Linked DNA regions of Homo sapiens. The protein of the gene in region 4 purifies or fractionates together with the protein of the main gene of each other region. This does not show direct contact. Each region holds a gene or a part of one and is shown on either strand. Other genes may lie near its edges.

Region 1 (7,741 bases), 6.3 Mb from region 4:
GGGGCACCTCTCCCTGGCAGGTACTAGTCTTACCAATATAGCTGCTGGAGACAGAACAGAACTGAGCACAAAGAGAAAGTGATCTGTACACCTCCCATTCATGGAATGGTGGCCCTGCTGTGTGTCTTCCCTCCGATCACGCTTAAAGAGCACCATGGTCCCACCTGAACAGCCTTGGCTGGAGTCCAGGGGAACCTAAAGCCTGTATTCAGGCAGTTGTTCAGCAGGGCAATTGGGCTAACAGAGTTGATGGTGAGTGGGTGGCAGTAGTCTGCGGACCCCAGCAACCACTGAATGTCCTTGACCTTGCAAGGCAGCGGTTCTTCAGAATCGCAGTCACTTTTCCCAGCATCATCAAAACTCTTAAGAAGCCAGGCCCAAGGACCCAATCTCTGGGATCCCAAGACATATACATGTCTTTAGGTGGGTGCGGAGGTTGTCCTTCTGCAATCAAGCCAAGACCCTTCAGACAGGGGCAGCTGAGCCCAGGATAGGAAGCCCTATGGTCCAGGTCATGTCAATGTGGTTCATTTGGCATTGAAATATGGCGGAACAGCACAGTCCAAAGGGCGTGGCCAAACTCAGCCACAAAATGATTTCTTGGTCATCCCCCTGTGAGGAAGGATGAGGTCCTTCAGAAGGAGGACATGCATGCCAGTGCTGCATTGTCACCACACTAGGACCACGGCAGTCCACAGCTCTTTGCTTTTACAAATGCCACCAAGACCCTGGCTGGGTTGCCAGAGGCAGACACCCCCCCCGGCCTTAAGTGCTTAAGGATGTTTCCCGAAGGGAGTCTGTTTTCCCTTGGACAAAGGCAGCCCATCTGATTGCCCAGGCACGGGGAGTACATGCTACAAGGTGCCTTTGGAGACCCACAGATGGTGCGTGGGTGGCTGCAGGGCTGCAGTGAAGGCCACATGGCACCTGAATAGAGATGGGAACAGGTCTCAAGCTGGGCAAGGCTCGCCATCAGTGACAGGGGGTAGAAGCAGGAGTGACTGAGCATCAGCCGCTGTGGCACTGCCCATGGAGATCCTGGGCAGCAAAGGGAGTCGCTGGTATCCACCCTTAGCCTGCTATGACCCTCAGGCGTGGGTGTGTAGGAACCTGCAGCCTGATAGACCTGCCCAATGGCTGAGAGTCCACCACGACCTTATTTAGCAGGCAAGTTCCAGATTCCCCAAGCCTCTGGCTCCATCAGAACACCAGCAGCTGAAGTCAGGCATTAACAGAGGTGCAACATTGGTCCTTCCCAGTGAGAGCAGTGGGGCCTCCCAGACTGCATATTCATGTGCAGAGTGGAACCTGGCCCCCAGACATGGCAGAACTACGCTCCTTGCAGCAACCACTCGACCACTACAGCACAGATGAGGCCCTGCCCGCTGCACCGGGCCCTGGCAGGGCTGGGAGGCATCTTGGGCAGGAAGCCAGACCCCCTCTCCAGGTACACCCATCAAGCCACCAGCCTGGCCAAACGGGCATCTTTCTGTCCAGAGCTCATCAATAGGAACTGGGCAACCAGGTGGGGAGCCGCCAGGGGAGCTTGGAGAGGGCAGAGTAGGAGCCTCCATGAACCAAGTCAGGCTGGAAGGGGTCAGCCCTCGTGGTCCGTCAGCGTGCGGCGGAGTCCCTGTGCCTAAGTAGCAGAGCGGTAGTCATTGAAACAGGCCGGGATGCCAGCAAGAGGGAGGCGAGCATGCAGTGAGCGATAGGTACAAAGCTAGCACGTAAGAGGAAGCACGGCAAGGTGGGCAACCAGGGCGCCAGGAAGGACGGAAGGAAGATCTCCTCGGGGAACACGTCTGGAGAGGCAAGAAGGGAGGTCTTCAAACAGGGGCAAAGCTGTCGTATGGGCATTTCTTCTACACAGCAAAGAGCGTATGCTACCTGGGTGGCTGCAGACGCTACCAAGTGCTGGCGGATTCTTAAAGATTCCGTGCTCGGGCAGGCAGGGCTGGCGCTGGACTAGTCCCGTTGGAAGCTGGATGCACTGGGCAAGGCCCCGTGCCCGCAGAGGCCAGCTGGCGGCAGAGCATCTGCCTCTCTCGCACAGCCCTATTAGAGGCAGAAGTCTTCCTGATTTGGGCGCGCCGCGCATGCCGGAGCGGAGACTTGTAGGTTCTCCGCAACTCTGCCAGGAACCCCTGATAGTTGTTGCGCAAGGGGCTGTCAGGTTGCATGTGGGGGATAGCCCACTTCTCCGCCTCCCCAGTCAGTCGAGACACAAGGAAGGCCACACGCTCGGCCTCACCCGGGAAGCGGGAGGCCTGGAAGATCATGAATCTGTCCATCTGCATCAGGAACCCCGCCAACCGGCCTGGGTCCCCGGAAAAGGGCTCGGGCAGAGAGGTTGGAGGTGTGGTCATGGGTCGAGTCCCGTTTGAAGTAATTGAGGAGATGGGCGGGGTGATCTGCAGAGCCCCCGGGATCCGCGCCCTGGTGCGTAACAAGGTCAGCTCTGCCATCACGCTCTCCAGCATGTTGGTGAGATTGGCCTTCTCCGCCCGCAGGGTGGAAGCCTCCCGCCTCAGCGCCGAGTTGGTGAGGCGCAGGGAGGTCAGGGTGTCAATAACGTCATCCATCTGGGCATTCGGAGACGCTGCCAAGGCTGGGCTTTCAGCTTTGGACGTCTGCGGCTGCACCATGCTGGCCAGAGGTCAGCCACACGCTGAGATCCGCGGGTGGACCAAGAGGGTGTGGTGACCAGGTGGGCCCCTGTAGAAATGGGGGCAGTGTGGGGTGCACGACGGCAGGGCGCTGCGAGACCCCCAAGCCGAGGGCCCGAGAGAGGGGCACGCGGTGCCAGGCCCTAGGGACTTCGGCCCCGGTCCCACGCGGCTCCTTTACTGCAGACTTCGCGGACTACGGAGCCAGACGGGTGGCTGGACCTGCTCTGGGCCCTGGAGGATTAAGAAAAGATGTTTTCAAGGTTTCAGTTGCGACTAGCGGGCAGGAGGGTGAGGGGCGGCGTGGAGGGCCCGCGCGTGGGTGGCGAGGCTGCACAAAGCCCCGCGGCGCCCGCCCCGCGCCCGCCCGGGGGAGAACAAAGGGGGCTGCTCCTTGGCGGCCGCGGGCCTGGGGGCCACCACAGTGGCGGGGCCCGGCCGGGCAGGGGGCCGGGGGCACGCGTACCTGGGGTCTCGCGGTTCCTCCGCGGCTCTGTCCGCCGCCGGCCGTGACCAAGATGGCCCGCGCGGGGGACGCGGCCAGGCCGATGAATCACCGCGCGGACCGCCGAGAACTGCTTCCCGGTCAGCGCAGCCAAGCGACGGCGCTGGCGATGGCGGCGGGCGGCCTCCGGCAGGTGCAGGGACCGGGCCAGGCCGGGGCCGGGGCAGGGGCGGGGCCGGGGTCGCGGCAGAGGGCGGGTCACCGCGCGGCCTTTGTGCGGGCGGGGCCGGCGCGGTGGCGGTGGCGGGCGGGCCTTAGGCTGGCCCCGCTGGTTGCCATGGATACCGACCGCTCCCGCGCGTGCGGAGACGACCGCTGCCCCGCCCCCGGAAGTGATGCACAAAGTCCCACCCCCCCCCACCCCCCAACTCGGGCTGCTGCCAATCGGGGAAGACTGTAGTTGCTGCGGCGTCTTCATCAGGGCGGGTACCTGGTGTTCTCCCAGTCATTCCTCCCAAGAGGGCTTGCAAGGCTCTTTCTGTGGTTGTCATTGGGTTTATTTTTTTGATGATTTACTGTTCTTCTTATTTTTTTTTTTTTTTGAGACGGAGTCTCGCTCTGTCGCCTAGGCTGGAGTGCAGTGGCGCGATCCTGAGTCACTGCAACCTCCGCCTCCCGGGTTCAAGCGATTCTTCTGCCTCAGCCACCCAAGTAACTGGGATTACAGGCGCGTGCTACCATGCCCGGCTAATTTTTGTATTTTTAGTAGAGACGGGGTTTCACCTTGTTGGCCTGGCCAGTCTCCAACTCCTGACCTCAGGGCATCCGCCTGCCTTGGCCTCCCAAAGTTCTGGGATTACAGGCGTGAGCCACTGCATCAGGCCCTTATTGTGATTTGAATATAAATTTAATGTAACAAATCTTGATGTAAGAGAAGTAAAAAAAACTTTATACTACTCAGACTCCCTCCACCTAAAGATAGCAAATAGTAATACATATATATGTAACGTAGAGATAGTAATATTTCTGTACTTCCATCCAGTCATTTTTCTATGATATGTTCTACAAAATATTTTTTACCTTATGAATATTTTGTAACCATAACAGCACATTGAATTTTGAGCATTTTCCTATTAAAGATAGTTCAGAAGCATGATTTTCAGTTATTGCCTGTGGTCCATGGAACTCCTGTACCGCAAAGTATTTAGCCATGCCCTTTTTGATAGATCCTTATCTTGTTTACCATGCTAAAGTTTTATAAACTACACTTGTATATAAATCCCCACCCTTTTCTCTGCTGGGTTCCCCAGAGTAAATACCAAGGAGTGAAGATACCTGGCTGATATGGTTTGGCTGTGTCTCCACCCAAATCTCATCTTGAGTCGTAACTCCCACAATTCCCACATCGTGGGAGGAACCTGGTGGAAGGTGATCGAATTATGTGGGCAGGTCTTTTCTGCACTCTTCTTGTGATAGTGAGTGAGTCTCAAGAGATCTGATGGTTTTAAAAAGGGAAGTTTCCGGCCGGGCACAATGGCTCACGTCTGTACTCCCAGCACTTTGGGAGGCCAAGGCGGGTGGATCACGAGGTCAGGAGATCGAGACCATCCTGGCTAACATGGTGAAACCCCGTCTCTACTAAAAATACAAAAAATTAGCCAGGCGTGGTGGTGGGCGCCTGTAGTCCCAGCTACTTGGGAGGCTGAGCCAGGAGAATGGCGTGAACCCAGGAGGCGGAGCTTGCAGTGAGCAGACATTGCACCACTGTACTCCAGCCTGGGCAACAGAGCAAAAGTCCATCTCAAAAAAAAATTAAAAAAAAAAAAAAGGGAAGTTTCCCTGCACAAGTTCTCTCTTTGCCTGCCGCCATCCATGTAAGACCTGACTTGCTCCTCCGTGCCTTTCACCTTCTGCCGTCATTGTGAGCCTCCCCACCACACAGAACTGTAAGTCCAATAAACCTCTTTCTTTTGTAAATTGCCCAGTCTCAGGTATGTCTTTATCAGCAGCGTGAAAACAGACTAATACACTGGCCAAAGGGTAAGAACTGTTTGATTCCGGGTCTGGATTCCCAGCTTGACCTAGGTGATCCTTCTGCATGGTCAGTTTCAAGCTGGCATGGCTGGAGAGAAAAGATACTGAGAAATAAAAATAAAAATTTAAGCCCCCCCCCCCCAACCAACTGAACAGACCCCCTCTTGGCCAGGGGACCCCAGAGAAACCTGGGAAGCCGAGTTCCTGGCCATGATGGGATGGGAGGTTGGACACACTTCATTATCTGCCCCCGCTCCATAACCGATAACCACCATTAGGCTTTTTTCCTTAAGAGTTAAACAGAAACAAGCCTCTTTGAAAGACTTCAACATTGATACCAACCAACCATCTGACACTGCCCCTCCCTTTTTGTGGCACACAACAACTGACCAGCATTCTTTCCTAGTAAGAGACCACCAACCCTGGAGTGGTTCTGGCCAGCCTGTGGAGGATGTGCAGTGAAAGCTTTTGTGTCCTCTGATACACCTTTTGACATTAGAGGGCTGAAAACTCCACCTTCAGATCACGCTAACACTGCCATTTTTTGTAGGTGCTACCCATGAAGGGGGATGAAGCTCAGTTGCACATGTGCATATTTCTCTTCTCATAAATATTTATAACTCCTCCTGTAGCTTATTGAATATGTATATTTGGCCACCCTGATCAACATAAATTCCTGTCTTACTCTTCCAACCCTTGAAGTGCCTGTTTATGGCTTCTGGCCAGAGGCTACACTTCCCAGCCTATTCAAATGGCCACTCTGCAGGGTGCAACCTTTTATGATAAATAAAACTCTCCTTTCCAGGTTTATGAACCTCGTCATTCTTCAGTTAACAATACCCAGTATGCCAGTCTTTTGAGGACACAGTATTCAAGGAGGCTGAAGCTGGGAACCATCTGCACTCTTTAGGCAGGCCTGGGACAGAGCTGGATTCACTCAGACCTGCAGTTTTCACTCAAGGGAATTAGGGCATAAGGATGTTGTTACTGAGCAAGTGGTCTTGCTGCCTGATGCACACGGAAGCCGATACATATGGCACCAGCTTTTGAGAAAAGAAAAGCTTTATTGCAAAACTGACCAGCAAGGAGAGAGGAGGTGGGCTCAAATCCGTCTCCCTGATTTGAGGTATGGGGCAAGTTTTAAGGGATCAGGTGGCAAGAGAAAGTATTTATCAATGCTGGCTTGCCAGGGTCTGATTGGAGGGCTTCAAATTTGACCATATGTGGTAATGTATATTAAAGTAGATTTTAGCCCCAGACCTTCCAGGCTGATGGACCCCTTTGCTTGTGAATGAGTTCTGGTTTTCAACTTCTGGTCATGTCCCAGTCTTCTTGGTTCTAAGAGGACGAATCATTGGTTCTGGGTGTTGTTGGAGGTCAAAGTTTTTTCTACGGCACATGCCCAGGCTACATGACTTGCAGTTTTGGGCTCTGTTCTACCTAAAAGGCAGCTTGACATTTTGTTACCAACAGGGTAGGCCCAGTTTGGGCTGGTCCCACAACTACAGTGTCAGAACTTGGAAAGGATACTTGTACCCCAGTGTGCCAAAGTGTGCACCCTTTGTGACCAGGTGAAAACTTCTAGAGCATGAAGCAAGAGGGAAATAAAGAAGACTGTGTGTCCTTAAACTTCTTCCATGAGACCTTCTAAATCAGATGGGGGCAGGAGCTGTGTTAACCTTGACTGAGGTCAATGACTTCAAAAGCAGAAATGAGCCTGCAGCCTTCTACCCCTCCAGGTTCTTCTAAACACACAGAGGAATCCCATCCACTCGTGGGAGTCACTCCATCTGTCTCTCTGTCTCTCTGTCTGTCTAGGCCCCTGGATACTGGGCACATTAGTGAAGTGTCTGCTGCAATTCTAAGTGTGGTTGACACCATGAATCTTAAATTCCCAGGTGCATTGAATATAAGATGCACCCCAATTTCAGAAATGATAAAACATTTAAAGAAATAAATAATTTATCTGTATTTCACTTTACTTCCAAGGGGAAATTAGATGGCAGCCCATAAAATAGAGCAAAATAAAAATTAATGGACTTTTAAAAGTAAAAACAGGAGAAGAATATTTGGCTTCTCATCCAGATGAAGCTATGATTCATGCCCTGAGGTGCCTGTCTGGGCTGTGAACACAGAACAATAAAATATGCAAAGAAAATATTGAAAGGATATAAGTGGGCTCCAATCGATAAACAAGATAAACTTCACAATGGTCCAGAAACACAAACTTCTGAGTATTGACGTGGGCCTGCCGGGCTCTGGACCTGAGACATAATAGGGACCCAAGGCTGGGAACACAGCCAGGCTTCCTATTTGAATCCAGGGGATGGAGGAGAGAGGAGTCACCCCTGTGTCAGAAAAAAAGTCTGAAAAATTGGATTCAGTCATTTCATGGGGGTGGGGTGTGACAGTTTATGTGAAAGTGTGGCCCTGGGTCAAAGGAGAACACAGATATAGTCATCTTAATCTCTTGTCCCCTGGTTTAACAAGTAGACCAAGAGGGTCAGGATTCCAAACCACCAACAAAATATATATACACATATATATTATACACATATATGTATATATGTATGTATATGTGTATGTGTGTGTA
Region 2 (7,829 bases), on a different chromosome or scaffold from region 4:
TGGGCTTTCACAGGTGGAGGCTGCCTGTGTTCGGGATTACCACACATTTGTGTGGTCTTCCGTGCCTGAAAGTACAACTGATGGTTCCCCCATTCACACCAGTGTCCAGTTCCAAGGTACAAGGGAAGATGGAAAATTGGGAGAGAGGAGCCAAGGGAGTGGAGGTTTGAAAGAAGGTAGTGGGCTCAGAAACATTAAAAGTTAGGCACAAAGGACAAGGAAAAATAAACGAAAATAAATATAATGAGAATATATCCAACAGCGCTCAGCGGATAGAGAATCACGGGATTATCGCAGAATCAGGGACATAGAAACAGAAGGAACTTCAGAGGGCATCTAGTCCCCTGTCCTACCCAAAGAAGGAAAAATGGGGGAGTAAGGAAGAGGGAAAGGTAGAATTATGTGGTGAGAAGAGGGAAAGACCTGGGTTCAAATCTCACCTCTAACACTTACAAGCTGTTTGGCCTTGGGCAAATTACATAACCTCCCTGTGTCGGTTATCTTAACAGTAAAAGGGGATGCCTGGCTTATAGGGACATTACGAGGATTTAAAATGAAAGCTGCAGGCCAGGCGTGGTGGTGCATGCCTGTAGTCCCAGCTACTCACAAGGCTGAGGCAGGAGAATCTCTTGAACCCGGGAGGCAGAGGTTGCAACAAGCCAAGATCGCGCCACTGCACTCCAGCCTGGGCGATGGAGCAAGACTCTGTCTCAAGATAAAATAAAATAAAAAGTGTTACCACAGTGTCTGGTACATGGTACGCACTCACTACATGGTAACTAGCATTATTATGATTATGATAGAGGGGCAGTGGGTTTGGGAAAGAAAGGAAGGAGAGGGACAGGCAGAAAGGAGGGAGAAGAGTATGGCCTGTGGGAGGTGGAGAAGAGAAGAAACAGTATATGGAACACCGAGCAAGGGGCTGGGGCCAAGGACAGTGGATTATTGGGGTCCTGGGTCCATTCTTCTTCCCACAGCCAGCTACCTGCCCAAACCAGGAGCTCAGCTCTACCAGTTCCGATATGTGAACCGCCAGGGCCAGGTGTGTGGGCAGAGCCCCCCTTTCCAGTTCCGAGAGCCAAGGCCCATGGATGAACTGGTGACCCTGGAGGAGGCTGATGGGGGCTCTGACATCCTGCTGGTTGTCCCCAAGGCAACTGTGTTACAGGTGAGAAAAGAGCAACAGAGTTATTCCCAGACAAGGGAGTGGGAGACAGCATTGCAAGAGGACCCTTCCCACCTTACCCTCCCCTCATCTGTGGCGCCAACTAAAGACCTCGTTGAAAGTTAGACAAAGTCCTGCCTCCAGGAGAGTCTCAGTCTAACATAGACATACACGAACATGTAAGGCAGGAAAGGAGACCACCCACAGGCCAGTGTAACTCAGGATTTCATAAGAACTTTTGCAGCCTTCCTTCTCCATGCACTGCATCCTGCCCTATGCCCTAGAGGAAGATCAAAGGGTGGAGAGAGGCTACTCCAGGGAACATTCAGAGAAAGGGGAGCACAGGACCTGCTTCTAGGACGAGTGGGGAGTGAGAGCAGATAGGCAAGGCCCCAGACCTGTACTGTCCAATACCAAAGGCTCTTAACTATATATGGCTCTTGAGCACTTCAAATGCAATTAATCCAAACTGAGATGTACTATAAGGGTAAAATATACTCCAGATTTTGAAGACTTAGTATTTTTTAAAGAGAATGTAAAAGACTTCAATAATTTTTATTTTGACTACATGTTGAAATGATACTGTTTGGGGTTTTTTTGTTTGTTTTTTGGGTTTTTCTTTTCTTTTCTTTTCTTTTTTTTTTTTTTTTTTGAGACAGCCTTGCTCTGTCACCCAGGAAGATGTTTATATCTCACGTAAGTGAAAGATGTGTGAGCTCCTACTCTCTGTTGCGGTTTCACAATCGTGATTCTCATTTGAGCCTTACAACAATTCAGACTAAGGGATCATGTTACAGATGAGGACACAGAGACTTAGAGAAGTTAAGAAGCTTGTTCAAAATCACATAGCTAGCTGGGTGTAGTGGCATGCATCTGTAGTCCCAGCTACTGGGGGAGACACTGAGGTGGAAGGATGGCTTGAGGCCAGGAGTTTGAGGTATGGTATGCTATGGTTGCACCTATGGCTAGCCACTGCACTCCAGCCTGGGCAACACAGTGAGACCCTATCTTTAAAAAAAATCACATAGCTAGTAAAAATTGCACTGAAGATTTGAACCCAAGTCTGTCCAACTCCAGAGCAGATAGGGTAAAATTAGGGGACCCATCCCTTGTGTCTGTGTTCATTGACTTGTGCCACATGAGGGATTCCTGCAATTGCTGGATGAGGAAAGGGCCAGGCCTAGAGTGGGGAGGGGTAAGAGAGATGGGCAATTCAGAGTGCCATGAGCTGGTGCATCTGACTGGGTGGTGGACGGGATTCGGTAGCACACTGAGCATCCCCTTCCTCACCTCTTTATAACCCAAAGCTATGTAACTTCCCAAACCCAAAATGCACCTGGAGAGTGGTGAGGATGGGACCTTAGAAGGGGTACTCCACCAGCACACTCCCCTTCTCCTTCTGCTGCCTGTAGAACCAGCTCGATGAGAGCCAGCAAGAACGGAATGACCTGATGCAGCTGAAGCTACAGCTGGAGGGACAGGTGACAGAGCTGAGGAGCCGAGTGCAGGAGCTCGAGAGGGCTCTGGCAACTGCCAGGCAGGAGCACACGGAGCTGATGGAACAGTACAAGGTGGGAGCTGGGCCAGGTAGGGGACAGGGCCTGGCTGCTCACCCAGCATCCAAAATCTGAACCCAGTGAAGAGGGTGAAGGAGAGATGTTAGTGGGCTTTTACAATGGTTCTGGCATCAAGGAAATAGGTTTAAGGGGTAGTGGCTGGGATTAAACTTGATGTGACAAGAGACATGTTCCAAACGTGTAATGAGACTCAGTTCTTTGAACATAGGAATGCTGGGGTAAGGTGGAGGTGGCCACGTTGATAGGTAAGGGAATGTTCCCTTACAGTTTCTTTTTCAAGGAAGGCAATGTGATAGCCAGGTGGAAGCAGTCAGACCCTGGTGTGCTCTTCCTAAGCCTTTGTTCCACCACTTGAGAGATGAGTCCCAACCTCCCTTTTCTTCTGGGGGAAACTTAATTTCAGGGGATTTCCCGGTCCCATGGGGAGATCACAGAAGAGAGGGACATCCTGAGCCGGCAACAGGGAGACCATGTGGCACGCATCCTGGAGCTAGAGGATGACATCCAGACCATCAGTGAGAAAGTGCTGACGAAGGAAGTGGAGCTGGACAGGTGAGGGGAGTCCACTGACCCCGTCACTTCCTCTCCCTTCCATGACCCCCGCACTCCAGCCCCCTCTCTCAGGCAAGCAGACCTGCTGTCTGCCTCACACGCTTTCTCTTTCCCTCTCACCCTCACTCAAGCTAGTTACTGGGGATACCCTTTTCTGCCGAGCTCTCTACCATCTTTCCAAATGCTATTCTGTATTCCTCCACTTCAGAAATAATCATAGTTACCACTTATTGTACAGCAAAAGCTGAGCAAGAGCTAGGAGTGGAGGATTTGGAAGAAGAGAATGGATGGAAGTCAGTGCAAGATAAGAGAGGATGGATTTCAGATGTGGCCACAGGAAAGATAAGATTAGACTGTGTTCTTACTATTAAGAAACATTATAACTGGTGATCCAGGAATGTTATGGAATCTCTGCCCTGGAAAAAAAAGATGCAAATCATAAACTCTTAGCACTGGGATTGTAAGATATGTATGAGGGTATGTAAGAGGTCACCCTCAGGAGGCAGCCTCTTTAACATTTGACAGCTGTCATTTTTGTATCTCTTGTATTGAGCCAAACTCTCCTCTCCTATAACTTACCAGGGGGTCCTGAGACCTCTGGAGCCACACAGAATAAATTTCTTTCTTCTTCCAGAAAATTGTTTTCTCTACCAAGTAGCATAAATATTAACCACCACCTCCCATGTCCATCCTTCAAATTTTCACCAGTTTAAACACTCTAGTTCCTTATTTCATTAAATGACAAAATTATGTTTCATTTACTACTGGTAGGTGTGATATTTTAAAAAACTGTTTAAAAGAAAGAGGCATTCTATCCAAGGCCCAAAGTAATAAGTGAGTTCGTCTGAGAGGCTTCTTCAGGATATGTTAGTCTCACCCTAGGGAGATATTAGATGTCTACATTCTAAGTCATAGGTTAGAAAAGCAGTGGTCAGATTGAGCATCTGGAAAAGATTAGGGGCTATCTAGACCAGAGGTCAACAACTATGGCCCACAAGCCAAATCTAGCCTGCCACCTGTTGTATATCCCACAGGTAAGAATAGTTTTTACATCTTTTAATGGTTAAGAACAAATTAAAAGAAGAATATTTTGTGACATGTGAAAGTTGTATGAACTTCAAATCTGTGTTCAAGTTTTATTGAAACATCATGCTCATTCGTTTACATACTGTCAATGGATGGTCCTGCACTACAATGGCAGAGTTGAGTAGTTGCCACAGAGACCACATGGACTGCAAAGCATAAAATCTTTACTATCAGGCCCTTTACAGAAAGAGTCTGCCAACTTCTGGTCTAGATCAAAAGTTTATAATCAATAATGACTGCCCTTGTCTCAAAAAGACTAGATTCTAGTCTCTTGATTGAGTGAAAACAATGGGAGCCATCAGCAAAACATTCCTTAAAATATTACACAAAAAGATAAGAAAAACTATTTCTGTCTAAATTGTTCTCTAGAACCTGGAATCTTGGTTTCCTGGGGCTTAGAACTGGATCAGCTGGCTTGGGGATTTATGCATCCCAGAGTGAAATGGAGCTCTGGGCCTAGAGCAGCAGCAGCAGAGCACAAGACAGAGGCCTGAGTCCATTCCTTCTCTGGGTGGAGCAGATTGTCTGACATGTCATCCCACCAATCACAGGCTTAGAGACACAGTGAAGGCCCTGACTCGGGAACAAGAGAAGCTCCTTGGGCAACTGAAAGAAGTACAAGCAGACAAGGAGCAAAGTGAGGTAAGGGGCTCAGAGTTGATTTGCTTTCTCCATTGTCCAGCCAGTGTTTGATTCCCTCTCGAGAGCCAGACACCAAAGGGAATAAAAATGTAAAGAAGACATTGTGTGCACTCTACTAGGGAACATAAGACATATACCTAAATCAGGATTAGTCAGAGTGGAAAAGTGGAATATAAGAGTGTCACAAGAGAAATTTTTTTTGTTTGTTTTTTGGAGACAGAGTCTTACTTTGTCTCCTGTGCTGAAGTGCAGTGGTACGATCTTAGCTCAGTGCAACCTCTGCCTCCTGGGTTCAAGCAACTCTCACGTCTCAGTTACCTGAGCAGCGGGGATTACAGCCATGTGCCACCATGCCCAGCTAACTTTTGTATTTTTAGTAGAGACAGGGTTTCACCATGTTGGGCAGGCTGGTCTCGAACTCTTGACCTCAAGTGATCCACCCACCTCAGCTTCCCAAATTGCTGGGATTACAGGTGTGAGCCACTGCGCCTGGCCTCAAGAGAAATCTAATAAAGTATTGTGGAGCTCCAGGGAGGTGTATGAGTACACATCTTGTTAGAGACATTAGAAAAGTCTTTTTAAAATGGGTGTGGAGGCCAGGCACAGTGGCTCATGCCTGTAATCCCAGCACTTTGGGAGGCAGAGGCAGGCGGATCCCCTGAGGTCAGTTCAAGACCAGCCTGGCCAACATGGTGAAACCCCATCTCTACTAAAAATACAAAAATTAGCCAGGTGTGGTGTCAGGTGCCTGTAATCCCAGCTACTCAGGAGGCTGAGGCAGGAGAATCACTTGAACCCGGGAGGCAGAAATTGCAGTGAGCCTAGATCACACTACGGCTCTCCAGCCTGGGCAACAGAGTGAGACTCTGTGCCAAAAAAAAAAAAAAAAAAAAAAAAAGGGAGGGCCATGGCTGGGCGTGGTAGCTCACACCTGTGATCATAACACTTTGGGAGGCCAAGGCGAGAGGATTGTTCAAGCCCAGGGGTTCAAAACCAGCCTGGGCAACGTAGTGAGACCCCATCTCTACAAAAAATTTTAAAAATTAGCCAGGCATGGTGGCATGCACCTGTAGTCCCAGCTACTCAGGAAGCTGAGGTGGAAGGATTGCTTGAGCCCAGGAGGTCAAGGCTGCAGTGTGCTGTGATCGCACCCCTGAACTTCAGCCTGGGTGACAGAGCAAGATTCTGTCTCAGAAAAAAAAGGGGTGGGGTGTGGGGCCTAGTACTTTCAAACCTTTTTAGCAGAACCCTTTCCTCTCCTCCCACCAATAAAGTTTTTAATCTTGTGTGGAATCTCACTGAATAAACAAAAACAATGTTTTATTACTATAAATTTATTTTTATAAATTTGAATGTATAACCTTTACTTAAAAGGTAATGAAAGCACTTAGGTAATTTTGAGGCATACCAAACTTTGAAATGAGAGGCTATCGAAGACTGTTCTGCCAGCCTCAGCAACTAATGTATTTCCGTATTTTATTTTGGTTGTACAATATCAAGAACACCTTGAGTCACACACAAGTAGGTGCAAATAACAATTTTTAAACTGTCCACCTTGCAACTCAGTTTACTCTTCAATTCAATAGAAAATACAGTAGAAACTATTCTGAGCTTTGCAAAAAAATGAATTAACCTGGAAACATATGTCAATTGGTGATCTCCAGTGTGTTAACTTGTGATTTTATGGGTTTTATTTGTTTTGTTTGTTTGTTTTGAGACGGAGTTTCATCTTGTTGCCCAGGCTGGAGTGCAGTGGCGCGATCTCGGCTCACTGCAACTTCTGCCTTCCGGGTTCAAGAGATTCTTCTGTCTCAGCCTCCTGAGTAGCTGGGATTACAGGCACCCGCCACCACGCCCAGCTAATTTTTTGTATTTTTAGTAGAGATGGGGTTTCACCATGTTGGCCAGGCTGGTCTGGAACTTCTGACCTCAGGTGATCCGCCCACCTCGGCCTCCCAAATCATGCCGAGATTGCAGGCATGAGCCACTGCACCTGGCCTTGTGTTGTTTTTCTTTTTTTAACATAATTGTTAATAATTTAGAAGACATTCAAATCAAGTATCTGCAGAACTCCTAAATCCCTTCTTCAGTACCCTGGGTTTATGTGGAAGATTGTTAAAAAACCCTTTGCTCAGCAGTGAGAATAGGTAGAATATGAGTAGACAGAGATGAGTGTGAGGCTATTCTAGGAACAGAGAAAGACGTGAGCAAAGGCTTAAAGGCCAGAACACTCAGGGCAGTTGAATGTGCGGGTGAAGTGTTTGAGATAAGGCCTAGGTTAGACTGTGGTGGATCTTGAGCTTCATTTTTATTCCACAAGCGTGAAAGGCTTTGATGATTTTTCAAGCAGGGGTGACGTGTACTGTACTTATGGCCAGGTGTAGTGGCCCACGCCTGTAATCCCAACATTTTGGGAGGTGAAGGCAGGAGGATCCCTCGAGCTCAGGAGTTCAAGACAAGCCTGGGCAACATAGTGAGACCCTGTCTCATCTCTACAAAAAAATACAAAAATTAGGCAGGCGTGGTGGCACACACCTATAATCCCAGCTACTGGGGAGGCTGAGTTGAGACAATTGCTTAAGCCCAGGAGTTGGAGGCTGCAGTGAGCTGTGACCATGCTACTTCACTCCAGTCTTGGCGACAGAGCCAGACCCTATCTCTAAAAAAGAAAATAACTGTATTTAAAGAATCAGAACTGTACCTAAAGAAGAATAATCTGATTCCCTTGTGGAGAATGAACTATTTATGAAGTTATTCAGTAGTCCAAGCAAGAAATGACCAGAGTCTGAGATAACGTGGTTGTGGTG
Region 3 (7,829 bases), on a different chromosome or scaffold from region 4:
TAAAAATACAAAAAAAATTAGCCGGGCATGGTGGTGGGCACCTGTAATCCAAGCTACTCAGGAGGCTGAGGCGGGTGAATCGCTTAAACCCAGGAGGTGGAAGTTGCAGTGAGCCGAGATCGTGCCACTGCACTCCAGCCTGGGTAACAGAGACTCTATCTAAAAAAAACAAAAACAAAACACACACACACACACACTAGCCAGGCTTGGTGGCACATGCCTGAGATCTCAGCCACTTGAGAGGCTGAGGTGGGAGAATCATTTGAGACTAGGGAGGTTGAGGGTGCAGTCAGCCATGATTGTGCCACGACACTCCAGCCTGGGCAACAGAGTGAGACTCTGTCGTTTAGGCTGGAGTGCCGTGGCATGATCTCAGCTCACTGCAACCTTCGTCTCCCCAGTTCAAGAGATTCACAGCTGAATTCTACCAGACATACAAAGAAGAACATCCTACTAAAATTATTCCAAACAATCAAAGAGGAGAGACTCCTCCTTAACTCATTCTGTGAAGCCAACATCAGCCTGATACCAAAATCTGGCAAAGACACAACAAAAAAGGAAAACTTCAGGCCAAAATCCATGATGAACACAGATTTTTTAAAAAACTCTTAACAAAATATTAGCAAACCAAATCCAGTAGCACATCAAAAGTTAATCCACCATGGCTGGGCGCAGTGGCTCAGGCCTGTAGTCCCGGCACTTTGGGAAGCTGAAACAGGCGGATCATGAGGTTAGGAGTTCGAGACCAGCCTGGCCAACGTGGTGAAACCCCGTCTCTACTAAAGATACAAAAAATGGCCGGGCGTGGTGGCTTACGCCTGTAATCCCAGCACTTTGGGAGGCCGAGGTGGGCGGATCACGAGGTCAGGAAATCGGGACCATCCTGGTTAACACAGTAAAACCTCGTCTCTACTAAAAATACAAAAAAATTAGCCGGGTGTGGTGGCGGACGCCTGTAGTCCCAGCTACTCAGGAGGCTGAGGCAGGAGAATGGCATGAACCCGGGAGGCGGAGCTTGAAGTGAGCCAAGATTGCGCCACTGCACTCCAGCCTGGGCCACAGAGCAAGACTCCGTCTCAAAAACAAACAAACAAACAAACAAACAAAAAAAAACCAAAAGATTAGCTGGGCCTGGTGGCACGTGCCTGTAATCCCAGCTACTTGGGAGGCTGAGGCAGGAGAATCACTTGAACCTGGGAGGCGGAGGTTGTAGTGAGCCAAGATCATGCCATTGCACTACAGCCTGGACTACAGAGCGAGACTCTGTCTCAAAAAAATAAAAAATAAAAAATAAAAATAAAAATAAAAAAATTAACCCATCATGATCAAGTAGGCTTTTTTGCTGAGATTCAAGGCTGGCTCAACATACACAAATCAATAAATGTAATTTGCCACATCAATAGAAGTAAAAGCAGGCCAGGCGCGGTGGCTCCTGCCTGTAATCCCAGTACTTTGGGAGGCCGAGGCGGGAGGATCACGAGGTCAGGAGATCGAGACCATCCTGGCTAACATGGTGAAACCCTGTCTCTACTAAAAATACAAAAAAAATTAGCCGGGTGTGGTGGTGGGCACCTGTAGTCCCAGCTACTTGGGAGGCTGAGGCAGGAGAATGGCATGAACCTGGGAGGCAGAACTTGCAGTGAGCTGAGATCGCACCACTGCACTCCAGCTTGGGCGACTGAGCAAGACTCTATCTCAAAAATAAATAAAAATAAATAAATAAATAAATAAATAAATAGAAGCAAAAGCAAAAACCACATGATCATCTCAATAGATGCAGAAAATGTTTTCTTTTTTTGAGACAGGGTCTTGCTCTGTTGTCCAAGCTGGAGTGCCATGGTGTAATCTCAGCTCACTGCAACCTCCACCTCCTGGGCTCAAGTCATCCTCCAACCTCAGCCTCCCAGGTAGCTGGTACTACAGGCACGGCCACCATACCCGGCTAAAATTGTTATATTCTTTGTAGAGACGGGGTTTCGCCATGTTGCCCAGGCTGGTCTTGAACTTCTGAGCCCAAGTGATCTGCCAGTCTCAGTCTCCCAAAGTGCTGGGATTACAGGAGTGAGCCATCGCACCCGGCCAAAAAGTAATAAAAAAAGTTCTGAATAAGTAAGTTCTCATGCTCTGTGTGAGTAAGCATTTATCCAAGGCAGCGCTTTGAAAATATGCACATTTCTTACAGCATCTCTCAAAAACATGCGAAGGCCCACATAAAGAAAACCACCTCACTCGTTTTACAAGTATCATAAACCATTCTGTGTACTATAGCTTTGAGTCACACATTGCTTTCTGAAGATCATACTTACTGTTCAACCTGGAAACCTGAAGAAGTCCCCTTCCTTTAGTACTTTTTCTAGTCCTTATTAAAAAGAAACAATTGTCCTATAATCTTTCTAGTCCCTTCTAGAAACAACTCTGAGATGGTTCCTATTTCAAAGTTAAACAAACAAAAAACTTATCAAAATATAATTTAAAAGCCATATTGGAAAAACACAAACAGCCTTCCAGAGACTTACTTTTCCTCTTTGCCCTGAACCTCCACTATATGAATGGCTGCCATTTGAATTCAGATTAAAGACGAAACCGACTGACAAAAAAGCTATTAATTAATGAATGTGCAGAAATGAGTTTTTGTTTTTCTTTCTTTAAAAACTTTTTTCAGCCTGGGCAACATAGCAAGAACCCGTCTCTACAAAAAATAAAAAATATTAGCTGGGTATGGTAATGCGCCTGTAGTTCCAGCTACTCGGGAGGCTGAGGTGGAAGGATTGCTAGAGCCTGGATGGTCAAGGCTGCAGTGAACCGTGATTGCACCACTGCACTCCAGCCTGGGCAACAGAGCAAGACCCTGTCTCAAAAAAAACAAACGAAAAACAAAAAAACCCTGGCCGGGTGCAGTGGCTCACGCTTGCAATCCCAACACTAGGAGGCCGAGGCAGACGGATCACCTGAGCTCAGGAGTTCGAAACCAGCCTGGCCAACATGGTGAAACCCCGTCTCTACTAAAAATACAAAAATTAGCTGGGCATGGTGGCATGCGCCTGTAATCCCAGCTACCTAGGAGGCTGAGGCAGGAGAATCGCTGGAACCCGGGAGGCAGAGGCTGCAGGGAGCCAAGATCGCGCCACTGTACTCCCGCCTGGGTAACAGAGACTCTGTCTCAAAAAAAAAAAAAAAAAAAAAAAGCCCACAACCAGACTTTTTTTTCGTTTTTTCAAATAAAACAATATGCTGTCTCAGCCCGCTCTTTTAGGGATTTTAAAAGGTGTGACCCACCTTGCTAAGATCTTTGGCAGTCACACTATCGTCATCCCGGCAGGGCAAGCGATGGACGAACGCTAACATCTGATACTTGGCTCTGATGAATTCCGCTTTATTGGGACTGGTTCAAAAACAAAAAAGAAAACAGTTCACTCGTTCAGATACAACAATCCCCATTCTTTGTACTGTAAAAAGAAGAGGAAGTGACCCACATCCCCCACTTGAGAATAAAATGAACAATGCTCAAGTAAGTTTCAGCAAGGTTTAAGACCTGCAGTTTGAAAACATACATTAGTTATTATAATGGCTGGGACTCCAGAGTACCTGCTTTTTATAGTAGCCCTCTTCTCTGTGTAATTGTCTGAACTGATTTAGCAACTTTGGGAGAAAGCAGCATTTAGTCCCATCTTATAAGTGAGGCAACAGGCAGACGGGTGCCCAGACCTAGATTTCTGGTCTGATCGCCTCTTATTTGAGTATAAGTTTAAATCTGATTACATTTACAGACTCCAAGCCATGGTTTCCAACTGAGGAAGCCACTTACTCCTGCTGGGTGGCCATGCTAAACAGATGGTCCTGCCCCACCCCATTCTGCATTTCTAATAGCAAAGAACCTGATGCACAACTAGGGTAACCCCCTCCTCTGCTGCCCTTGCGGAGACTGACCAAAAATAGCTGCACTCCTTTCAGTGGGCCCCATTTGTTATGAAGAAATAAAAGTATTTATAAACATTCCACTCACTGTACTTTATCCTGTGGATTAGCTTTACGTCTTCCACTCATAATAGACGCAGGGTCCAGCAAAGAATGCTCCCATATAGAGTTAGCACCGTTATTATACAAGGTCTCAACCATCTAAAACCAAGCAGGATGACATAAGACTTTAATTTCTTTTCACAAATATTCAATGGGGATCAGTGACTGAACAGAGTAAACAAAGTCCTGTTATAAACACTCATTTGTTAGGAATATCATTCATATCATTGTTTTCTGATTTGAGAATGAGAAAGATGATCAATCTATATGCAGGATTCAGCTTTGACTAGTAGGATAGTTAAATACCTAAAGTGTGACTGAACTGTTCTTATTCTGTATGAAAGAAAAAAAAGTACTCTGACACCTTAGAGCAGGGTTTCCCAAACCTAATTAAACACTATTTTCAACATTCTTAATGACCCATGTACTGTCTATATTATTCACTTAATATTTGTCTTTAAAGCCACTTACTTGTAAAAACAACTACAGTTTGATGTGCTAGTTATAGCTTTCCCATACACAGTAAAATAATGTAACCATTAAAAAAAACATGTATTACCTACATCTGTCTTGAATACCACTGGTGGTTCCACATTTGGGGAATTGTTGCTTTAGGGTCAACCCTGGCATTCTAAACAACTCATCTCTGGACTTTACTGAGACTCTGTACTACAATCTGGCTTTGCAAACACAGACAGACCTGAGAGCAGTAAACAGCCCCTTTCACATGAGCGTGAGCGGTTAGAAACTTCTAAGCAAAAGTTAGTAATAAATCATATCTCCAAATTTCATTTCAAGGCATGACTCCTAAAACAGCCCCATCTGTTTTTTACAGCAGTGTAGTTATTTTCACATCAGAGATACAAACCCACTTGTTTTGGCTCCTTGGTTCACACAGCCAAGTTTAAGGGATATGTGCAGCTGTCACAGATTCAGTGAAATGTGTAATCAAGACAAATGAAGGCAAAACACACACTTAACCTTGAGTTCCAAGAGAACTTGAAGAATGTGTACCCCAAGATAGAAGTAAAGGTGACATGACATTGGACTCCAGATAAAACAAAGAACTCATTTAACAGGGTATTCTACATGCAATCAAAACATATTAATTTAATTTGGTCTCTCTGACTAGTAACAAGAGCTTTAAGAAAACTTAAAATGTTTCAGAAGTTTCTGAGGAATCCCAGCCCATGCTGCTATCAAAGCAGAAAAACATGTTCTAAAAATATTAGCAGGTACTCAGGAATAAGTACATTAAAGAAAAGATTCTCAGGCAGTAGCCTTCAGAAACATTCATTATCATGCATAGAAAAGATGGACTACTGGCCGGGCGCGGTGGCTCACGCCTGCAATCCCAGCACTTCGAGAGAGGTTGAGGTGTGGATCACTTGAGTTCAGGAGTTCGAGACCAGCCTGGCCAACATGGTGAAACCCCTTCTCTACTAAAAATACAAAAATTAGCCGGGCATGATGGCGGGTGCCTGTAATCCCAGCTACTTGGGAGGCTGAGGCAGGAGAATTGCTTGAACCCGGGAGGCGGAGGTTACAGTGAGCTGAGATCACGCCACTGCACTCCAGCCTGGATGACAGAGTGAGAGTCCGTCTCAAAAAAAAAAAAAAAACATTTCCGATGACAGTCTAGAAAGTCAACAGAGCAACAGTACCAAGATATTTTAATGACTATTCATCTATCTACCTATAATTGAGCTTGTTGAACAAGATTTATGTCAAGTAGGAAGAAAAGTCTTTACTGAATTCAATACAGATAATATTTGTAAATAGCATTGATGGGCATGCCATCTCTATTCAATTATGAAACAGTTTTGTCTTATGGAAGAAGTACACCAGGAGAAATTTAAGTTATTAACATGATGAGCCCTAAAATGTAAATTACCAACTGTCAGGAGAATTCTTATCCTTTACCTGAAGCAGTGTTGGAGGCCACGGTGTGTGTTTCAGATGCCTCACTTGGGAGATATGGCGCCCTAGACTCCGATGGACACTGCAGCACTCATCACATAAAAACGTTCCCCTATTTACTGATGCCCAGGAAGGATCTGGAAAGAGAGTGAAATCTCAGTGGCAGGGATACCAGCAGGTTGCTATACCGCCAGATGGCAAAAGATGACTGAAGTTTGGTTTGTCAGAAAAAGGAGACATTTTTGTTTCAGTATGCTCATCAATGCATCAGGCTGGTCATCTTGTTGGATGGTATGACCTACCTTGGCTGATTAGGTACAATGTTAATTGAGACTAAAAACACCAGTGGGAGCCTTGGGTAAACAGTTATCTTCTTTCTGGTTCAGGGCCACAGTTTGTAGCCCTAATGTGGATCTACCATTTCAGATGCATGCTTTTTCATTCAAGCTAAGAAAGCAAATTGAGAGGGTACAGACGAATGATTTTGGATCCATCTCCATAAAAATCAAGATAATACTTTTTTTTTTTTTTTTTTTTTTTTGAGATGGAGTCTCACTCTGTCACCCAGGCTGGAGTACAGAGGCACAATCTTGGCTCACTGCAACCTCTATCTCCCAGATTCAAGCAATTCTCCTGCTTCAGCCTCCCGAGTAGCTGGGATTACAGGCATGCACCACCACGCCCGGCTAATTTTTGTATTTTTAGCTGAGACGGGGATTCATCATGTTGGTCAGGTTGGTCTCAAACTCCTGACCTCAGGTGATCCGCCCACCTCGGCCTCCCAAAGTGCTGAGATTACAGGCGTGAGCCACTGTGCCCGGCCAAGATAATATAATTTTGACAGTGAATTATGCAGATAGCATTTTCTGCAGTAAATGTTGTAGACTGCTGTCCTAATTCACTGCTATGAATCAACATGTCAATATGCTTAGCAGAAAGCTGCGAGTTACAGAATCATAAAATCACTCAGCTGCTATGGTTCTGAGGACAGGGAAACCTGGCCTCTTCCATTAGGAAATGTTCTATGATGTCCATGAATTGGTTTGTTTGTCTGTTTGTTTGTTTTGAGACAGAGTCTCACTCTGTCCCCTAGGATGGAGTGCAGTGGCGCAATCTCGGCTCACTGCAACTTCTGCCTCCAGGGTTCAAGCGATTCTCCTGCCTCAGCCTCCCGAGTAGCTGGAATTACATGTGTGTGCCACCAGCTCGGCTAATTTTTGTTATTTTTAGTACAGACGAGGTTTCACCATGTTGGCCAGACTGGTCTCAAACTCCTGACCTCAGGTGATCCACTCACCTCGACCTCCTAAAGTGCTGGGATTACAGGCTTGAGCCACTGTGCCCAGCCAATTAATTGTTTTACATAAACTACCAAGTCCAATCCTGCAACTGATCTGAAAAAAAAAAAAGAAGTTGCAATAACAGCAGCTTCACAGAGGCAAAGATGTAAAATAAAAATGAATAATATTTTTAGTGTGTGTATAATACTTTTTTCCCTTTAAAGTCATAGAGCTTCATTAGCTGTCCTTTGAAACAAGGAATAATTTCATACTTGGCAAGCAGGATGGATCTGGGTAAGTAAACTGAATACCTAGAAACCTCAAATAAAGAAAGAGCTATACTTCGTCAGACTCACAATGGGGTGACAATAGGTGCCACTTAAGCTGCCTGGTCAAAGGGTTACATTTAAAAATTCTTCAATGTCCACAAAAATCTCTAAAATGCATGTACACCATCTTTACCATTTTTTAAGAGTTTATTCAAACCCTTTCAAACCATATAATGAAAAGTTATGGGCTTTCAATCAAAGACGAATCCTGGGAGCCAGTGAGTATGGTGGTTAAGAGGGTTGGCTCTAGAGACAAGGAGTTCAGGGTTTGAACCCCAACTCT
Region 4 (7,829 bases):
CCCAGCACTTTAGGAGGCTGAGACGGGCAGATCACCTCAGTTCAGGAGTTCAAGACCAGCCTGGCCAACATGGCAAAACCCTGTCTCTACCAAAAACACAAAAATTAGCCCAGGCGTGGTGGTGCATGCCTGTAGTCCCAGCTATTTGAGAGGCTGAGGCAGGAGAATTGCTTAAACCTGGGAGGTGGAGGTTACAGTGAGCCGAGATTGCGCCACTGCACTCCAGCCTGGGAGCCTGGGTGACAGAGTGAGACTCCATCTCAAAAAAAATAAATAAATAAAAAGAAAACAAAGGAAGATGCTTTGTGATCTGAGCTGTAGCATCCTATAAACACGTACCGTATCGGAAAGAGCATCACCCAGTTTTGTGGACAGCAGAGGGCAAAAGCCAGATCCAAGTCCTGGTTCCTTGAGCTGTCTACAGGGTTGACCTCACGGGTTGGCTCAGCCTCTGACACATTCTGGCAGGACCGGGGTGTCTCCCAGGGACAAGGTGCAGAAATGGAAAGCACATGGACCTTGGTGCCAGACACACCTGGGGCCTTTTGGGGGTGGTCTCGCTCTCTAGTTGTGTGGTTCTGATAGGTCAGCCACTCTTTCTGTGCCTCACTTTCCCCCTGGGTGACACAGGTAGCTGTGTTAAGTCAGCTCATGTCACACCTCTCTCAGGACCTTCCCACGGCTCACTGGAGTAAAGCCAGAGTTGTCACCATGGCCCACAAAGTGCTGCAGAAAGTGATCCCCAGTGGCCGGGCGCGGTGGCTCACGCCTGTAATCCCAGCACTTTGGGAGGCCAAGGCGGGTGGATCATGAGGTCAGGAGATCGAGACCAGCCTGGCCAACATGGTGAAACCCCGTCTCTACTAAAAATACGAAAATTAGCCGGGCGTGGTGGCACGTGCCTGTAGTCCCAGCTACTTGGGAGGCTGAGACAAAAGAATCGCTTGAACCCGGGAGGCGGAGGTTGCAGTGAGCCAAGATTGTGCCACTGCACTCCAGCCTGGGCGAGAGTGAGACTCCGTCTGAAAAAAAAAAAAAAAAGAAAGTGCTCCCCAGCATCCCTTCTCCAACCTCAGCCCTACTTGGCTTCCTTTTGTTTCCCCTGCCTCAGCCACACCCGCCCTTCCTCAACACAGGATGCACGCTCCTCTCCAGGGCCTTTGCACTGGCTGGTCCCTCTGCTGGCGTTTTTGTTTTTGTTTTTGTTTTTTATACAGGGTCTCACTCACTCCGTTACAGGCTGGAGTGCAGTGACACGATCACAGCTCATTGCAGCCTCAAACTCCCAGGCTCAAGTGGTCCTCCTACCTCAGCCTCCCTAGTAGCTGGAACTATAGGTGCATGCCACCACACCTGGCCAATTTTTGTACTTTTTGTACAGACAGAGTTTCATCATGTTGCCCAGGCTGGTCTTGAACTCCTTGGCTCAAGCGATCCGCCTGCCTCCGCCTCCCAAAGTGTTGGGATTATAGGCATGAGCCACGACGCATGGCCTCTGTTGGCATCCTTGTTCCCTAGATATCCACAAAGTTTGCTCCATCACCTCCTGAGGTCTCTTCAAATCTCATGTTCACTCAGTTTAGAATTTGCAACCCCTGATACACACACGGACACACACACACACACACACACACACACACACACACACTCCCTGTGTCCCTTCCCCACCTCAGGTTTCCCCATGTGTAATTGTCATCACTCACATATATGGTGGTTATTTGTTCAGTGTCTGTCCCTCCCAACCCCCCGATTAGAATGCCAGCTCCATGAGGGCAGAACTTATACCTGATTCACCGCGGCCTCCCCCATGCCTAGAACCGCGCCTGGCACCTCGCAGATACTCAAGGAATCCTTGCTGAGTTCTCAGTGTGACTCAGGCCAAGGTGGGGACAGTCCAGGGCTTCTCAGGAAACTCCCCAGCTCCTCCCAGCCCACACAGTCAGGGGGTCTGGCAGCTCACAGGGAAGGAAGGAGTGGGACAGAAGGAAGTTGGCGCTTGCAGAGATCCCCTGACAGGGGCAGCCACTGTGGCCCTTAAGCAGGAGAGTCTTAGGGGTCACCCAGGTTTCGCTGGGGGTAGCTGGGTGGACCCAGAGTGCCAGGTCAGGACCCAGGCAGCTTTAGACCCCTGTGCGGATCCACGGTGAAGACCAGTGGCTTCATGGGGTGACCCCTGAGCTGCGACCCCCCACTGCTGAACATGCCGGCTTAGCCTGGGCTCTGGCCTCAGTTTCCCTGCCTAGCACTCCAAATCCTAGGGGGCTCAGGCCCTGGCTGCCCACCTAGCTCTCCTTGGGGGCCTCTGTGCACTCCCATCCTACCTGGAAAAGTCATATGAGATCTGCTGGCTACCCTGACCTTTCAGATACTATCTGGAGACGTTTACATGTCAACCTCACCGATCCTACCTTTCAATGCAGGCCTTTTTTTTTTCCCTTTTTTTTTTTTTTTTTTTTTTGAGATGGAGTCTCGCTCTGTCGCCCAGGCTGGAGTGCAGTGACAGGATCTCAGCTCACTGCAACCTCCGCCTCCTGGGTTCAAGCGATTAGCTCTGCCTCAGCCTCCTGAATAGCTGGGACTACAGGCGCCTACCACCACGCCCAGCTAATTTTTGTATTTTTAGTAGAGACAGAGTTTCACCATATTGGTCAGGCTGGTCTCGAACTCCTAACCTCAGGTGATCCACCTGCCTCGGCCTCCTGAAGTGCCGGGATTACAGGTGTGAGCCACCACGCCCAACCCAATGCAGGCCTCTTAAGTGGTCACCCTCACCACCCTACACACACCTGGGGAGGTCCCAGCACACCTCCCTGCTGGTCTCAGCTCATTCCCACACAGCAGCTGGACAATCTTTGCACCACGCGAATCTGACCATGCCACCAGCCAGATTAAAGCCTTCCATGGTTCGGCTGGGCAAGGTGGCTCATGCCTATAATCCCAGCACTTTAGGAGGCTGAGGCGGGCGGATCACAAGGTAAGGAGATTGAGACCATCCTGGCTAACATGGTGAAACCCCGTCTCTACTAAAAAATACAAAAAATTAGCCGGGTGTGGTGGCAGGCACCTGTAGTCCCAGCTATCAGGAGGCTGAGGCAGGAGAATGGCGTGAACCCGGGAGGTGAAGCATGCAGTGAGCCGAGATCGCGACACTGCACTCCAGCCTGGGCGACAGAGTGATACTCCATCTCAAAAACAAACACAAAAACAAACAAGCAAACAAAAAAAAAACCTTCCATGGTTCCCTACTATCCTAAGGATGGAGTCCAGACCCACCCTCCCAGCACCCCAGGCCCTGTGTGTCCAGCCCCACGCCCATTTCCCACCACTGCCACCTCCACTCTGTGCTCCAGCCACACAGAATTTCTTTCACTTCCTCCCACCCGCGCTTTCTTGCCTCTGAGCCACCTCCCACCCCATGATATTTCTCTCCCCTCACTCCCCTCTACTTTGTTTGGCAGACTCCTACTCATCCTTCGGCCCTGGGTGCAGACATCTCCTCCTCCAGGAAGCCCTCCCTGATCCCTAGGACTTGTTAGGGACCCCCACCCCTGTGTGTAATGGGTTGTATTTCCTTGCTGTCTCTCCACCAGACAGGGAGAGGCTGAGTCAGCTCTGGGTGCTTGAGGCCACCCATCTCAAGACCTGGCAGGGAGCAGGCACTGGGGAAGGGTGGATGGTCAGAGTCTCTGACGCCATCACCCAGCTTGTCACCAAGCCGGGTTCCAAGCCGAAACGTAGTTCAGTACCTCCTGGCCCTGTCTCTAATTCTTCCTCCTCTCCAGCTGCTTCCTTGGGCCTGTTGGCAGAGACAGTACAGATGCTAGGCGAATGGGAAGAGAGCAGAGGGGATCCCATCCACGTGACTTTGGGCCCAAAGGTGGGGTGTGGGAAACAGGGAAAGGAGCACTGGATTGGGAGTCAAGCTTGGGTTTAAGTCGCATCTCTGTTTTCTCAGGCTGTGTGACCTGGGGTGAGCCACTCCATCTCTCTGGGTCTCCACTTTCCCATCTAAAGGATCGGAACAATACCTGCCTCGCAGGGTTTTGGTGGAATCAAGTGGTATACACTGTAGAGGTCAGTGAGCAGCTGGGAGGTTAGAATTGCTGTCTGTCCAGGAGGGGTCAGGCCTGTAGCCAGCACTGGGGTCTCGCTCTGATTTAGCATCTCCCAGCTGGCTGGGGTCACACAGGGAACTGCAGGAAAGGCCCTTAGAGGCCATCAGGTCCTGCCTCCTCCCTTTACCCAAGGGGAGGTAGAGACCCAGAGAGGGGCAGCACTTGCCTGAAGTCACACAATAGGTGTGAATGAATAGCTGCAAAGGCCCAGGACTGAAACCTGGTCCCTTCACACCGTCACCTCCCTGGTTCGCCCAACCCTGAGGTAATGCCCAGAGAGGACAATAGAGTAGTCCAGGCTCATACAGCCAGCATGGGGTAGAATTCAGGCCTGAGAGTTCAAGACCAACCTGGGCAAGATGGCTAGACTCCATCTCCAAAAAATAAAAAGATTAGCCGGGTGCAGTGGTGCACACCTATAGCCCCAGCTACTCAGGAGGCTGAGGCAGGAGGAACCATTGAGCCCAGGAATTCAAGGCGGCAGTGAGCTGTGATCCCGCCACTGCACTCCCTGGGTGACAAAGCAAGACCCCGCCTCTTAAAAAAAAAATTAGCCGGGTGTGGTGGTGGGCGCCTGTAGTCCCAGCTACTGGGGAGGCTGAGGCAGGAGAATGGCGTGAACCCGGAGATGGAGCTTGCAGTGAGCTGAGATCGCGCCACTGCACTCCAGCCTGGGTGACAGAGCGAGACTCTGTCTCAAAAAAAAAAAAAAAAAAAAAAAAAAAAAAAAAAAGATGGCCAAGCAAGGTGGCTCATGCCTGTAATCCCAGCACTTTGGGAGGCCGAGGTGGGCGGATCATGAGGTCAGGAGACTGAGACCATCATGGCTAACACAGTGAAACCCTGTCTGTACTAAAAATACAAAAAATTAGCTGGGCCTGGTGGCACACACCTGTAGTCCCAACTACTCAGGAGGCTGAGGCAGGAGAATCGCTTAGAACCTGGGAGGCAGAGGTTGCAGTGAGCCGAGATTACGCGACTGCACTCCAGCCTGGGTGACAGAGCAAGACTCCATCTCAAAAATAATAATAATAATAATAATAGAATTCAGGCCTGAGGCCACATGGAGCCACACACCTCCTCCCTGTGTGGCCCTGGCAGGGCGACCTCCCTGGGCCCTGTTTCCCTAGCCCTGTGAAGATGAAGCTGGACTTGCCAGTTTCCAAGGCCACCCCAGCTCTGATTCTCCAGGATTTGTGTTGGGCCCGCTAGGGATACGATTTGCAAGTTACAGTTAAGTATCCAGGCCCCCTTACCAGCCGTTTGGGGAGCTGGCACGTGCAGTGATGCTTGGCCACCTGAGCTACACAGAAAGACCCAATGGGAGAAGGGAAGCCTCTCCCCACGCAAGTTAATCAACTGCCCTTTGGGTGTTGCGGCTGATACAGAACCTCAGAGGCACAGTCTGGCCTCATGCACAAGTCATTTTTCCTGAGTCCTGGATTCCTTGCTAAGTGGGAATAATCACAATAATCTTGGTGTGTAAAATATAAAGGCTTAGGCAAGGCCAGGCGTGGTGGCTCACGCCTGTAATCCCAGCACTTTGGGAGGCCAAGGTGGGCAGATCATCTGAGGCCAGGAGTTCAAGAACGGCCTGGCCAACATGGTGAAATCCTGTCTCTACTAAAGAAAAAAAAAAATGCAAAAATTAGCCAGGTGTGGTGGCGCACACCTATAGTCCCAGCTACTTGGGAGGCTGAGGCAGAAGAATTGCATGAACCCGGGAGGTGGAGGTTTCAGTGAGCTGAGAACAAGCCACTGGACTCCAGCCTGGGCAACAGAGCGAGACTCCATCAAAAAAAAAAAAAAAAAAAAAGGAGGCATAGGCAAGAAAGATCACCTCATCTCACCATCATCCCACTATCCACAAGCAACAGAGACATCACTAACCACACACAGCACCAATTCCCAGTGAGGCAGGCCACAGCCCCTGAGTCTTTCTCAGCACAGAACTGTTTTCTCCTGAGCTTGGACACAGCCTAGAATCCTCAACACTGCCTCCAGACCAGGCCTGAGAGATGGAACCATCAGCCATTCCCTATCCTTGATAATAGCGGAAGCTGGCTGTGATTGTAAATACCCTCAGGTGCTAGGAAGGTTTTGAACCTGCTCTTCCCCCACTCCTCCATGCCCTCCTGTCCGAGCCTCAGCCCCCTCAACCGCATCCTGGATGTCAGCTGAGGCACCCACGTTTGCCCAGGAATGTCCTAGCTCAGCAGTCAGGCAATCACAGGGGGAAAGTCACAAGAAGGGGGAACTTTCTGGTAACCTCAGGCTTTCCGCTGCCAACCCCAGGCCAGGGGCTGCCAAGGGGCCTGGGTCCTCTGCCTTTGCCAGGCTGGCTGACCCTGGGCCTGAGAAATAGTAGCTGATCCGATCCCCTGTTCAGCACCTGAGGCAACCAAGCCACTGTTTGGTAGCCGTGGCGGACTGGAACCCAGGGGTCCTCTGTCTTCTATGTCGGCCACCACCACCTCTCCCTGGCTTCTTCCCTTGGAAGCCAGCAGAGCTGACCTCCAGGGTCTGCAGGTTCATGACGTCTTCTGGAGGCATAAGGAGAGAGGTGACTCTTGAGGGACTGACAACTGCCTTGTCCAGTCAGCAGCCACAACCCTCCAACGTCCCCCTCCCTGGCCCCACCAGTCCACTCCAGAGACATCCTGTAGAAGGCCCACCCGCTGGCATGGGCTCCTTTCTGGCTGCTGAGCCATTCTGCTCGCTCTGTGAGGACAGGGAAAAAATGTGTTTTCCTAGCTCTTGGCAGTCAGCACTGCTGGAGCCTCCTCCCTGCTGGAAGGGGAGCAAGGCTGGAAGAACCAAGCACCACAGAGAAGCAACGGCCTGGGGTTCCAGCCCCAGTTCAGGTACCCTCTCACACTCGCTGTGTGGCCTCAGGTACGGCACTCCCTCTCTCTGGGCCTCAGTTTTCCCACTATGCCAAACGTCCTCCGAGCCTAAGGTACCTTCCAACAATGACTGTCTCTGAGTTTAGAGTTTCAGATTCTGGCCCAGAGCTCCAAGACCACCAGCAGAATGGAGGTAGGGAAAGGAAAGCGGTGAAGGCTTCCTGGAGGTGGGGGCATGAGACACAAACTATCAGACTATCAGACTAGCCCTCTTCTCCACCTGCACAGCCACAGACCACTTCCTCCTTCATCTGGACCATGACCACAACCGCCTGCTCACCAGCCTCTTGCCTTGCCCTCCGTCTCCAATCCCCATCATTGATCCTCCCCCAAGAGCTGTCAGAGGAATCACTACTGACACAAACCCACGAGCCTGTCCGTGCTTGGCCCATTTCAAAACCCTGCAATGCCAGCCTCCCCGCAAGCCAACACAGTAGGGTCCTCAGGCCTCAACCGTATTCCTGTCCACTCTCTCCCAGGATCGTATGCTAACAGATGAATGAACAGACAGCAAATTCTACTATCCCTGAATGTTTCCCAAAGGGACAAGCGGGCAGTGCATGCCTGTGTGTGTGAGGGAGGAAGTTGCCTGAGTCCTGAAGGATTTGCTCGCTTTTGGGAGACTGCTTCAAGATTCCCCCAGCCCCTGCCCTGGCTTCCTGTTTCTCTGGGGTTCCCAGGCCTTTTTCTCCATGTGTTGTGGAGCTCTTAGAGGGCAGGGATCCAGGGCTCATTCATTCAATCAGCAAACATCCAAGAAGCACCTACTATGTTCCAGGCTCTGTGCTGGGCCCTGGAGACCCTGAAG

The links.
Region 1: the proteins of MAFF (region 4) and RTL6 purify together in Homo sapiens (affinity purification with mass spectrometry; 3 studies listed by BioGRID and IntAct, with this or other methods). This does not show direct contact.
Region 2: the proteins of MAFF (region 4) and CALCOCO1 purify together in Homo sapiens (affinity purification with mass spectrometry; 3 studies listed by BioGRID and IntAct, with this or other methods). This does not show direct contact.
Region 3: the proteins of MAFF (region 4) and GIT2 purify together in Homo sapiens (affinity purification with mass spectrometry; 3 studies listed by BioGRID and IntAct, with this or other methods). This does not show direct contact.

What each region holds. Positions count from the first base shown.
Region 1 is NC_000022.11:44,494,909-44,502,649, forward strand, and holds the start of RTL6 (retrotransposon Gag-like protein 6), read right to left. Parts: upstream 3,326-7,741; 5' UTR 3,136-3,325; intron 2,904-3,135; 5' UTR 2,649-2,903; coding exon 1,929-2,648; 3' UTR 1-1,928.
Region 2 is NC_000012.12:53,716,932-53,724,760, reverse strand, and holds part of CALCOCO1 (calcium-binding and coiled-coil domain-containing protein 1), read left to right. Parts: intron 1-13; coding exon 14-116; intron 117-977; coding exon 978-1,168; intron 1,169-2,577; coding exon 2,578-2,736; intron 2,737-3,145; coding exon 3,146-3,294; intron 3,295-4,931; coding exon 4,932-5,022; intron 5,023-7,829. UniProt on the Homo sapiens protein: Functions as a coactivator for aryl hydrocarbon and nuclear receptors (NR). Recruited to promoters through its contact with the N-terminal basic helix-loop-helix-Per-Arnt-Sim (PAS) domain of transcription factors or coactivators, such as NCOA2.
Region 3 is NC_000012.12:109,985,687-109,993,515, forward strand, and holds part of GIT2 (ARF GTPase-activating protein GIT2), read right to left. Parts: intron 6,075-7,829; coding exon 5,941-6,074; intron 4,117-5,940; coding exon 4,004-4,116; intron 3,383-4,003; coding exon 3,277-3,382; intron 1-3,276. UniProt on the Homo sapiens protein: GTPase-activating protein for ADP ribosylation factor family members, including ARF1.
Region 4 is NC_000022.11:38,204,443-38,212,271, reverse strand, and holds part of MAFF (transcription factor MafF), read right to left. Parts: intron 1-7,829. UniProt on the Homo sapiens protein: Since they lack a putative transactivation domain, the small Mafs behave as transcriptional repressors when they dimerize among themselves.